2 separate regions of the Homo sapiens genome follow, and region 2 is linked to region 1. Evidence: fine-mapped expression QTL. Tissue or cell type: whole blood. Region 1 holds a variant in brackets; the other region holds the start of a gene. All regions are shown on one strand. Distances are from middle to middle.

What was found. PIP is the estimated chance that this variant, and not a neighbour inherited with it, causes the effect.
Region 2: GUCY1A1 starts here. The variant in region 1 is fine-mapped to the expression of GUCY1A1 in whole blood (INTERVAL, PIP above 0.99).

Annotation. Positions count from the first base shown.
Region 1 is chr4:155,583,639-155,589,921 of GRCh38, forward strand. No RefSeq gene overlaps it. Among named protein-coding and RNA genes, the nearest start is that of GUCY1A1, 80 kb to the right of the region's middle. The variant T/C (reference allele first, on the strand shown) is at 3,407.
Region 2 is chr4:155,663,384-155,669,024 of GRCh38, forward strand. GUCY1A1 (guanylate cyclase 1 soluble subunit alpha 1) reads left to right here and starts at 3,465. Exons shown (of 10, transcript NM_001130682.3): 1 at 3,465-3,582; 2 at 3,963-4,036.

The sequences.
Region 1 (6,283 bases):
AAAATATGTAGTTTCAACACGAGATTGAAGAATGATGTAGAGGATTACAACAGGGAAAAAAGTAATACAATCTAAACAATCATAAAATGAAAGTGAGCATGGCACAACTAATTTTCACTAGATCCATTGGACAGGAATGGAAAGATTATATTGGCAAGTGTAGAAGATAATGTGGTAAGTTTTCTTAGGACAAGATAAAAACGTGCTGGATTCTAGGATAAGAAATAACTTATAAATTCAATTAAGTCAACTGAAAGTTTCTGTTTAGGGAAATAAAATGAAAAAGTCATGATTCATTTGTTCATGCAGGCATGCATAACTAATATATATTGAAAACTTGGCTGGGCTGAGGGCTCACGCTTGTAATCCCAGCACTTTGGGAGGCCAAGGCGGGGTGGATCACATGAGGTCAGAAGTTCGAGACCAGCCTGGCCAACATGGCAAAACATCGTCTCTACCAAAAATACAAAAATTAGCCGGGCGTGGTGGCATGGGTCTGTAGTCCCAGCTACCTCGGAGGCTGAGGCAGGAGAATCGCTTGAATCCGGGAGGCAGAGGTTGCAGTGAGCCGAGATCGCACCACTGCACTCCAGCTTAGGTAACAGAGGGAGACTCTGTCTCAAATAATGATAATGATAATGATAATGATAATGATAATGATAATGATAATGAAAATAAAAACCTACTATGAACTAACTAAACATTAGGACAAGAGAGTTATCTTCTTTTTTAAAGGTTTGTACTCAGAAAGCCCATGGTTTAGGCAAAATTATGCACTGAAATATTAACTTGTTGGTTTTTTGTGTATTTGTTTTTGCTGCTGAAAAATTAGAGATGAAAGCTCCTATGGGAAAGCTCCTTTTGCCTTGAAGCTCATTCTCTTAGTTCATTTGTGCTGCTAAACCAAAATACTTTGGATAATTTATAACAAAACAGAAATGAATCTTCTCACAGTTACAGAGACTGAGAAGTCCAAGAGGGAATTAGCAGATTCAGTGTCTGGCAAGGGCTCCTCTCCCTTACTGTATCCTCTCATGGTGGAAGGGGCTAAAAAGGGACAAGCACACTCCCTTTGACTACTTTTAGAAAGTACTCATCAATTCATGAGGGCAAAGCCCTCATTGTTAAATCACTTCCCCAAAAGCCCCACCTCTTCATACCATCACTTCAGGGTCTAAATTCCAACATATGAATTTTGGAGGAGCACATACATTGAGACCACAGCACTCACAATAGAAGAAAAAGTAATTTCTCCGTGGGGTAGGATTGGAGCCCCTTCTAGACTCTGTCTTTTGAAACCAGCCTGTCACATCCTCTACCCATTCATGTTCTGACCTTCTCTCAGGGGGCTCTGTCCCTTCTGAGGAGACCTGAAGTTGTCCAGTATGCTGGTTACTAAGTGGATGAATAGGTCTAATTGTCAAGATGTAAAGTATTTACTAGTGCATTTGGCCACACATCTAAAACCACCTCTCCAATCAGCTTTATCAGTAATACAGCTGGCCTAATGATCTCTCTCTTGGTAATCTCTGTCTACCTCTCAAATAATTCTGAAATAATGAGGAGAAGAAAGGAATTATTTGCCACTCTCACAAAAGAGCTAAATTTTATTGTGTAGATAACAGTTAAATGTACCTAAAAAACATTTTCTGTTTCTACCTACCTTTTATATTCTTAAAGCCTGAACTCTTGAGGATATTTTACAAGTAAGGACAAGAGAATCCACATGTACTTTGAATATGGGAAGGCTCAAACTTGGAGAGTAATGATGAGGTTCCTTATGTCTGGATGGAGACTAGGTCCATGGGACTTTTGGTATTGTAGATCTATGTCCAGCTCCCTTGCAGCACCCTGGTGGATTAGCAAAACCTGGAGGAATGACTGAGCGGTGCATCTCACAAGCCTCAACACTCAGCTCAGTGTTTCCAGCTTCACCAGCATCCAGTAGCCAGCGCTGGCTACAAAGATGCTGAGTTCCTAGATTTAAGTGGAATGACCACACATGTGAGTTTCCCTGCAACGGTCCAGATTTTTGTGTTATTCTGTCATAATTTTACTTGCACCCTATTATACTCTTCTAGTTTGGTTGATAAGTTATGCAATTGCCCTTAAAACTTTCAAGAGACAAGGTGGAGCTTTGCAATGAGGATTCAAATAGTGAACAGCGTAGGCAGCACCAAATGAATTAGAAGATATCCCTCAGTCACACCTCAAGTAAATGGAAGCACCTCAAATGAGACCTAAGAATGGCTTTTTTTCAGGCGATACAGTCAGATCTTGTTTTCCTTCACTGGTTTCTAAATCTTTGCCTTCCTAGTTTGCCATGCAGGTCATGCTTCAAATTCTTCCAAAATATCATGGACAGATTTCTCACCCTGACCTACAAGTTCAATAAAACCAGGGAATACCTAGGGATGTTTTATTCAATAAATCACATGCATCTCTTTTATCACACAATGTCTTCTACCACTATTCCCCTTGTTCACTTCCCTTTGGCCACATTGGCCTTCTCAATGTTCCTTGACTTCTCAGTCAAGCCCCTACCTGAGGGCTTTTGCCTTTGATGTTTCCTCTTCCTGTAATGCTTTTCTCTCAGATATATGTGTATCTTACTCCCTCATTTCATGAAGTTATCTGCTGAAATGTCACCTTATCACTGAGCCCTTCCATGACAATTCTTTAGGAAAGAGGAAGCAGTATCCATGCTGCCCCTCTCCCTCTTCCCCACTACCTGGTCCCTTACTGTGCTTTATTTTTTCCCACAGCTCTTAATAATTATTGGCATATGATATATTTACTTATATGTTTGATTAACCCTTTTCTCTAGCTATAAAATAAGTTTCAAGAAGGCAGGGACTTATTTTCCTGGCTATATCTCTAGCTCCTTCAATAGTGCTTAGCACATAGTTGGCTTGCAATAAATATGTGCTTAGTTTAAAAAGATGGGTAACAGTCATGGAAATCCAGTCACTGACTAGGAAGGCAAATATTTAGGCCACCAGAGAGCTATTGGTCTCACTCATAAAGATATCATACCTTGTGTCTTTCTTGTTTAAACCTCAGTTTTTAAACTTTGTAATAACTTGAAAATATTCTTTCATGGTGTTAGGAATTATGCTTTTATTTACCTTATCTTTGGTAATCCTATCTATTCATATACCCTTTTTATAAATGTTATCTTTCTAAAGGAAGAAAAAAATCAAATATTCAAAGTCAGTGCTTTTGCAAGATTTTATAGGCACCAGCCATTGTAGGCATAATTTTTTCATATCTTGAATAAATACTAGGATGCCTTAGAAGCTTCTGGAGGAAGCTGACTACTTAAATGTCAGTTATCCAAGTACAACAACAAAAACGAAGTCCATGGTAATTTCAAGCCACATAACAGTGAGTCGGGATATCTTCA[T/C]TGAACCCAGGCTTTGAGTTTATCCCAGGCTACAGAGGCCCACATAATTTGATCCTAATTAACACAGGCCGGACATGATAGAGAATTTCCTAAATCCCACTCCTAACTTCCAAGGTTTAAGACTTTTTTTGTGGAGAAAACCAATGATCTTGACATAAAGCATTGTCAGCCTATAGCCCACAGGTCTTTGCAATATCTTAACAACAGTGTATTCATGTTTTTGCTTTCTGTCCCTGGAGAAGGTTGCATCAGTCAAATCATCTTCCACTTGCTTGCTAAATAAATCTGGTAACACAGGCAATATATCCTCCTGATTCAAATGGCCTTGCTTGTTGAAATGCAACAGCAATAGGCCTTGAGAATGAAGGATATTCTGGATTTCAGAGGCATACTGCCTGGTTATGAACATTAAAGACATTGTGCAGGTGTTTACACCCTAACTAGTCTTTTATGGTAAGCTATCAACTGTGCATCACAGATTACTAATGAGAGAAGAAATGCCTGTTCCACTGATGTAGCTTAAGTAAGTAGTGTGCAGTTCAGTTCTGGAAAAGATGCCATCACTGCCATTTATAAGCAGTATGTTACCCTTCGTTTTCACATTTTCTAGCAAAAGTTTAATAATTTATTTTGATTTTAGAAAAACAAACACAGGAAGCAAAACTTTATCACCACTAGATCAGCGATACCTATGCCAAATAAGACATAACAATCAATGTGTTAACTTAGAAAACAATTTTTAAACTAACATGACTATAATCACATGTATTTTTAGAAATTTTGTGTAAACAAGCCTTCCAAAAGACAGTTTGGTAGGAAATCTCCCTCAGTGTTTCCATGCATGGCAGCCATCAAAATGTGCTGCTCTCATCTCTTGCAGGAAGCATGCTTGATTGATGGCCACTGCTGCTGTCTCTCTACATTGGCCATTGTGGTTGCTCCTAACCAATGACTAAGTATAGCAGGATTTCTCAGGCAGACCCATTCTGGTAAGACATGACACTCTTCCAATGGGCATCTTTACTTCGAAGGCTTCCCATTGGCCTGGTTAAACATCCTTTGTGCCTGCGCTACAGTCGCCATTCTTTCTACCCAATACTCCTTCCTTCCCTCTCTCCTTCCACAGAGGTCAGACTCATGTCACAATTTGAAGGTTCTCTGTGCCTTCTCTTGCTCCCTTCACCAATAAATCTCTTATACACCTAATTCCATTTTGGTGTCTGCTTCTCAGTCAACCTAAGTGAACGCATCATCCAAACTTTCACAGCCCTCTCATTAGAAGTTTTTTTATTCATTAAGTATTTACTAAGCAGCTATCTGTTCCAGGCAGTGTCCTATTCACTGGAGATATAGATGTTGCACTAACAGAGAACATATACATTAGATATAGATTTTATGCTACCAAGGAAAATATACATTAAATTAATAATTATGAATGTAATGAAAAAGGAGTCCTATGGAAGCACAATTTGGGAGATCAAATAAATTCTAAAATTTGAAGATGGTCACCCACACTGAGAGAGTTTTAAGCATAGACTTGAAAGAGGTGTGGACATTAGCTATGTAAGCTGAAAAAAAGGAAAGAGCTTACTAAGCAAATTCTGAGGAAAGAAAGCTAATGGCTTATTCTTCCAGCTTATGGGAATCCAGTGTGAACTGAAAGAACCCCCAGTAAATTCAACATTATAAATAATTTCTGAAGAACGTATATATGAAGTTCTCCCTGGATTCACTTTTTTTCCCCGGTAAAGTATTTGGGATAAGTATCTTACTTTAACATCCTCCAACCCCATTTCAGTTCTAACTGCACATCCCATAAATGTACTATATCAGATCCCTGTAACTTACAACATAGCAGAATCATTCTAATTGTACAGAATATTGTAAAGAATATTGACTAATTATACAGACTATTGGCTAATGGTGCTATATCAAATAAGCCAGCGGCTCTCATGTTTTCCAGCAACTATTTTCCTTAAGAATAAGCTTTGCACTTTATTTCTAGAATCTTCTTCATCCTTGTTATGTGATTGTCTACAAAGATGTCTCTGACTTAAATCGAGCACTAATCTGAAACATTCTTAAGTACATTCCCCTTTTTTAAGCTGTTAAATCCTCTCTTATTGTCACTCACCTGGCTACTACTATTTTTGTAACAAACATTTGAAAGAGGGAATATTTTTGTTTAGAATGATATTTGCAGTATGCTTTCCTTTATCCTGTGCAAGAAAGCTTTCCTTTACCCTAGGAAAAAAAAATGCTGGTCTTGAAGTCAGAAATTGTCTTTCACATCTAGGGTTCTACCTCTTACTGACTATATGGATTCAGGCTACACCCATTTATGCATTACATATTTATTATTTGTTACATATCATCCATTGTGATAATTATTGGCAATACAAGTTGTTACAAGCAATATTCCTTTTTATCAAGAAACCCAGCCGTTAAACAATTTTCGCCTCATTTCCTCATTCAAAGAGGGTTATAATGGCATATTCAATCCAAGTTATTGACATATTTAACAATTATTTAATAAACATCTGTACATGTTTAACTTTAATAACTCATTTATGAAAGCATCTGACATTGGTAGGGGCTGAAAAAATATTTGTTTGCGAATCTGATGTGCTACCCTTTAGTAGGCTAATGACACAAAAATGGCATTTAAATTGGCAATAAATTAATCTTCTCAGGCTTAGTTTCCCCCAAAATAAGTTTTCTTTTGAAACCTAAGTTCCAAATGAAGCAGTCAATTGTCTGGTTGGATGGCCCATATAAGAGGACTAGCTGTAAAATTCAGGTCTAACATGAAGACTTTAAGTCATGTTTACCTAATTTCTCTATTTCCATTTCTTCTATTAGCAAGAATTTTCTAAA
Region 2 (5,641 bases), 79 kb after region 1:
AGCAATTCTCCTGCCCCAGCCTCCCGAGTAGCTGGGATTACAGGCACCTGCCACCATGCCCAGCTAATTTTTTGTATTTTTAGTAGAGACAGGGTTTCACCATATTGGTCAGGCTGGTCTCGAACTCCTGACCTCAAGTGATCCACCCGCATCCGCCTCCCAAAGTGCTGGGATTACAGGTGTCAGCCACTGCACCCAGCCCCCTTTCTATTTTCAAAGCCAGCAATTGCTTATCAATTCTTTCTAACATAGCATCACTCCGACTCTGACTGACTCTATTGCTTTAATCTTTCTTTTACAAGGACCCTTTTGATTGCATTTGGTTCACCCACCTAATCTGGAATAATATTCCCATCTCAAGACTAGCTGATTAGTAACCCTAATTCTATCTGCATCCTTACTTCTCTCTTGCCATGTAAAATTGCATATTCACAGGTTCTAAGGATTAGCAGGTAGACATCTTTGGAGTGCCATTATTCTACCTACCACTGTATTTACTGCTCACAAACACCAACTCCTTGGCAAAAATATAGTGGACAGCATTTCTGTTACCATCAGAATCTCTTCCAGTCCAGGCTGCTTTGTGAATGTCTATACCAGGACTAGAAATGCGTGGACGCCAACCTAATAAGATCTAGTTTTTCTAACTAAAGCTTTACATTCATACAAAAGAGACATTTTGGAGTCTTTGCATCATCTTACTGCAAGTTACCAGTGTAAACTTTAACCAGGTACATTAAAACAAATTGAAAATGAATAATACTAAGAAAAGGAGGAAATAAGGAGCCAGAAGTTTATCTTATTTTTCTTATATTTGAGAGGTTATCCTAATTTGGTAAACCATACAATCCATAGTTTGTTCGTTTGCTAAAAATAAAACAAAGCTCTGACCCTGACATATATGTAACACTTCTCTCATTTCTACCCTTTTACTGTTCTCTATCTCGTTCTTAATTCCCCTTGGTTTATGGATTTTTTATGGTCCACAAAGTCAGTAGAGATGAAACCATTAGTCCCATTACTTTATTTGAACTGACATGGCAATAGTAACCCAGAAAAATAAAGATGCAGGTTCTAAAAATCCCTGAATTTAGAAAGATTCATACGATGTGTTTTGAGGCTTATCATACTTAATGCCTTGATAGTAGACCAGTGCTTTTCAAACTTTAATGTGCATAGGAATCACTTGAGGATTCTGTTTAATGGATAGTCTGATTCAGTTGGTTTAGAGAGGGGCCTGAACTTCTGTATTTCCAACAAGATTGTAGGTTATGGGATACTGCTAATATAGAAACCATACTCTGAGTAGCAAGGATTTAGATACTATCTCTAGTTGCCATTGTCCTTTCATTTGCAAGTGTGAAAGTAATGTACATTTAAATGCTTTCATGCTGTTGTCAATTGTGGGTTGTAGGTACAAGAAAAACAAAGCATCTTGAGAGGAAATAAAAATTTCTTGAGCTTTTCTGCCAGCATCAACATGGCTAAGGAGATTGCTTTACACTGAGTAATTTTCCTTGTTAACATTTTTATTAAGTTGTCATGACAACTTTCTTATTCTCCATAAAGTGGAGGAAAGTAGGTTTTAACCCATAAGTCAACTATAAGAAAGAAGATTGGACCTGGAAGATGATGAAATATTCAGGTATTCATTTATCCACTCAGCAGGCATTTTAGTGAATCCCGTTATGAACCATTTTCATTACTAGGAAATTAGGCTGTGAAGATTAGTATTTCCCTAACAACAAGGAACTCTTGTTACTTTTTTAGAGCATATCAAACATCCAGATTACAGAATGTCTTTTGCAGTCACCTTTTGGTGGTTCTAGCCACCCTTATGTTTAGATTGGTTGCTTCCTCTTCTTACCCATTGTCTGACAGTCAGAAAGGATAGAGGAGGAAGAAGACAAGACACTATCCAGTTGAGAGTCTACTCTTAGTAAAACTCGGTAGCTCCTGGCAGAATGTACTGGGGTCAAATGCAATACTAATCAAGGAGTTTGGTGTGCCATAAAACTTGAGAATGGTAAAAGTAGAAATTAATGGGTTAAACAAGTCATTTTCCAGAATGAAAGGAATATTGGTAATGGTATCAACAGACGAGGACAACAGCAACAACAAAGTCTTTATACAAGCCTGCAACACGTGACAACTGCGGATCAGGCATCTGAACCCGGCCTATCTTTCCACCGTATCTTCCTACACTTTTCTTTATGTACTTTTTATTTCTACCAGATGGTATTACTCCTTGTTTCTTGAATAACAGTGTCATGCCTTTCCAACCTCTGTATGTTTGCTCACAAGTTTCCCTCTGTCAGAGAAAAGCAAAAACAACAAAAAAGTCCTCTATTTTATCTTTTTCCAAACATAACCAATCCTTCAAGTCCTATCTCTAGTACTGTTCCTTTATGAACCCTGTCAGACAATATCTCATTTTCTTCTGAATGTTCATAGCATTTACTTAAAAATAGTATGACTTCCCTCTTCTTTTTACTAATGAATTACTGTGTATTTTTTAAGTTTCCTTCTACATCTGAAGTTCTAAATATTCTTAGTACAAATGTCCTACTGATCTAAGAGAGTATCATGGGTTAAATGTAGAGGAAGAGAAGTTTCTGAGATGGCAGGAAGGCAAAAGTTTCTGTGACTACCTGTGCTTATATTGCTGACTTTCTTAACTGTTCCTGACTTATTTAAATGTATTTTTTTCCTGATTCTGATTAATGTTCACTATGAGGCAAGCACAGTAGGCAAGACTGGGAGAAAGTTTGCAAATGTGATGAGCTTACAAATGGGACCAGATTAGATGGTGTACTTGGGGGAGATATAAAAGAGGAAGATAACCATGAATTGAACTGAATTGAAAATGGATCACATAAAGATCATGATTAATTGTTAATTCACAATGGAACAGCATGATGGGATTTTTTTAAGTCAGAAAGGTGACTAAAAGCATAATATCACAACACACACAACGGTAACAAATATAACTAAATGCACTGAACCAGGCAGAAGCCAGACCTTACTGAAAAGATGTAAAATCTCTGTAACCATAAAACTGCATCTGCAAATGAGTAGATTGGCTTCAAATCTGAAAACCAGGACAAGAGAGTCATCAGCGCAGATGTCAACTTCCCCAGCAGAAATGTTGGAGTTTTTAACTGTGGAAAACTACAGTTTTTCCACACCAGTGCATAGTGGAGAAGACATGTTTTTGTTTTTCTTTTTAAGTGTGCCAAATTTTCCTGGAGTCCCCTCCAATTTTTTTCTTTCTCTCTCTCTCTCTCTTTTTTTTTTTTTGTCCCCTGCCCCTAGGTCTCTGTCTCCACACAGTGATTTCTGTTATGGCGATTGGGCGGCTGCAGAGACCAGGACTCAGTTCCCCTGCCCTAGTCTGAGCCTAGTGGGTGGGACTCAGCTCAGAGTCAGTTTTCCAGAAGCAGGTTTCAGTGCAGAGTTTTCCTACACTTTTCCTGCGCTAGAGCAGCGAGCAGCCTGGAACAGACCCAGGCGGAGGACACCTGTGGGGGAGGGAGCGCCTGGAGGAGCTTAGAGACCCCAGCCGGGCGTGATCTCACCATGGTGCGTTTTGGCTGCTACTTTCTTTTTCAGTCTTTCGGTGCGGAGAAGGGGAGGAGGCGGGCAGAGGTCTGAAAAAATCGAATGCCTTATGGAAAGGAACTGCAAGGGTTCCTTTGGGGTGATCAAAGAGGGAGACACAGACACAGAGAGACAAAGGCAAGGAGGACTGTCTGGGAGCCACGCGGGCGATACAGTTTCCGAGGCACGCCGCGTCCCGCCTAGCCTGTTGAACAGGTAGACATGAGCGACCCAAGCGTAAGTGCCGCTGCCGCGAGTGCCCAGGGTGCACTCGCGCGGGGACCGACAGGTGCCACTGCAGGGTCCCCTCTCCCGCTCACTGCCTGCCACCCCTGACGCCTGCTCTCTTTCTCCATTCGCAGTGCGGATTTGCGAGGCGCGCCCTGGAGCTGCTAGAGATCCGGAAGCACAGCCCCGAGGTGTGCGAAGCCACCAAGTAAGTGGTCGCTGCATCCCCACGCGGGTCGGGGTTCTTCAGACAGGCGGTCCCTCTTCCGGGACCCCCGCTTGGGCTGGGTCTCCTTCCTCTCCTGAGAAACCTTCGGTACGCTCCCAGTTGCCCAGCCCTGGGAAGCCAGCATCGGGTTCCCACGCTGGGGAGGAGCGAGAGGAAAGGAGAGGACGCCCGAGGGGCCGGCCCAGGGCCCGGGGGACCCGCGGCGCCCGAGGGAGGAGCACAGACGGGGGTGGGCGCCGAGCAGCGCCGCGCCGGCTGCTGAGCTCGCGGGGCCGGGCCGTGAGAACGCGCGGGGCGCGCCGGGGCCGCTGGTCTCCCACGGCCAGGGCGCCTGGGCCCCAGAGCCCATCAGCCGCGTGCAGCGCTGCGGCCTCCGGCGCGCCGGCAGGCAAGCGAGCGGGCGCAGCTGGGGGATGCCTGGACCCCGGAGGCAGCAGGGCTGGAGGCGGTGGCGGGCTTCAGGGCAACTTCACCCGGCCGGCTGCGGCGTGGGTAAGAGGCGCGTCCTCCTCCACAGCAAAAGCTGCGATCGCTGGGCTGCCCAGAGAAGGCAGCCGGCTAACTGCCCAGCGGCTCCACGAGGTGTGCGCGTGTGTGCGAGAGAGACAAATGATTTACTGCTTAGCAGTCCCATTTCTGTTTTCGTTAGGACTGCGGCTCTTGGAGAAAGCGTGAGCAGGGGGCCACCGCGGTCTCCGCGCCTGTCTGCACCCTGTCGCCTGAGCTGCCTGACAGTGACAATGGTGTGAGGGGCTGCGTTGCAATGTGGTCATGTGATTTCAGGCTATGGATTTCGTGCGTCTTTCTCTGCTCACTGATTTTCACATGGTTATTCTTTCATTTTGCACTCGATAAACAGTTTACATCTTCTGAAGTAAGCCAGAAGATTGTATGGCTCACTTAACGATGACTGGTTGAAGGCATCTTGATTTGGAACCTATGGAAACAGTGCTGAGTTTTAAATAGGACAGATTTTTTTTTCTTTCATTTGAACTTCATTTATAACATATCAATAGTGATGTTTTAGGATCAGTTCTCCTATGGTAATTTCACTAAATGCCTATTTAATGAATTGATTTGATTTCATACATCTCTACCACTTACTAGAACTGTCTTTGTACAAACGTCAAACTTTCCTGTTACATATGGGTAAGCATAGAAGCACTTGATATAATTTTTTTTTATCTTGGTTCAGAGTGTAGAAGTGGTCTGTTGCTTTTCCTAAAATTGCTATACATATTTTTTCTTTAAGAGTGATCATTTCAGGTACCCTATTATGTACAGTGGTAAAAAGTAAACTCGTTATGATAGCAACGACGATGTAACCAAAATAAGCAACACTTAATTGGTCTGAAAGTTATACATATAAGCTTTATTATTGCTTCAGTGGAAGTTGTCTATGCATTCTGTGCTTTGTTCAGCCATTAAACAACTGGGTCCGTGATCTTCTTCAAGGGGCCGTGAAGTCCCTAAAATTGTATTTAAACATTAGAGTGGCTGCATTTTAAGGGAGATAGTACATAGTCAAATATCCAAAATGGACCTGTGTCCTAATAGAAAATTAAGAACCACGGGGTAAAAACA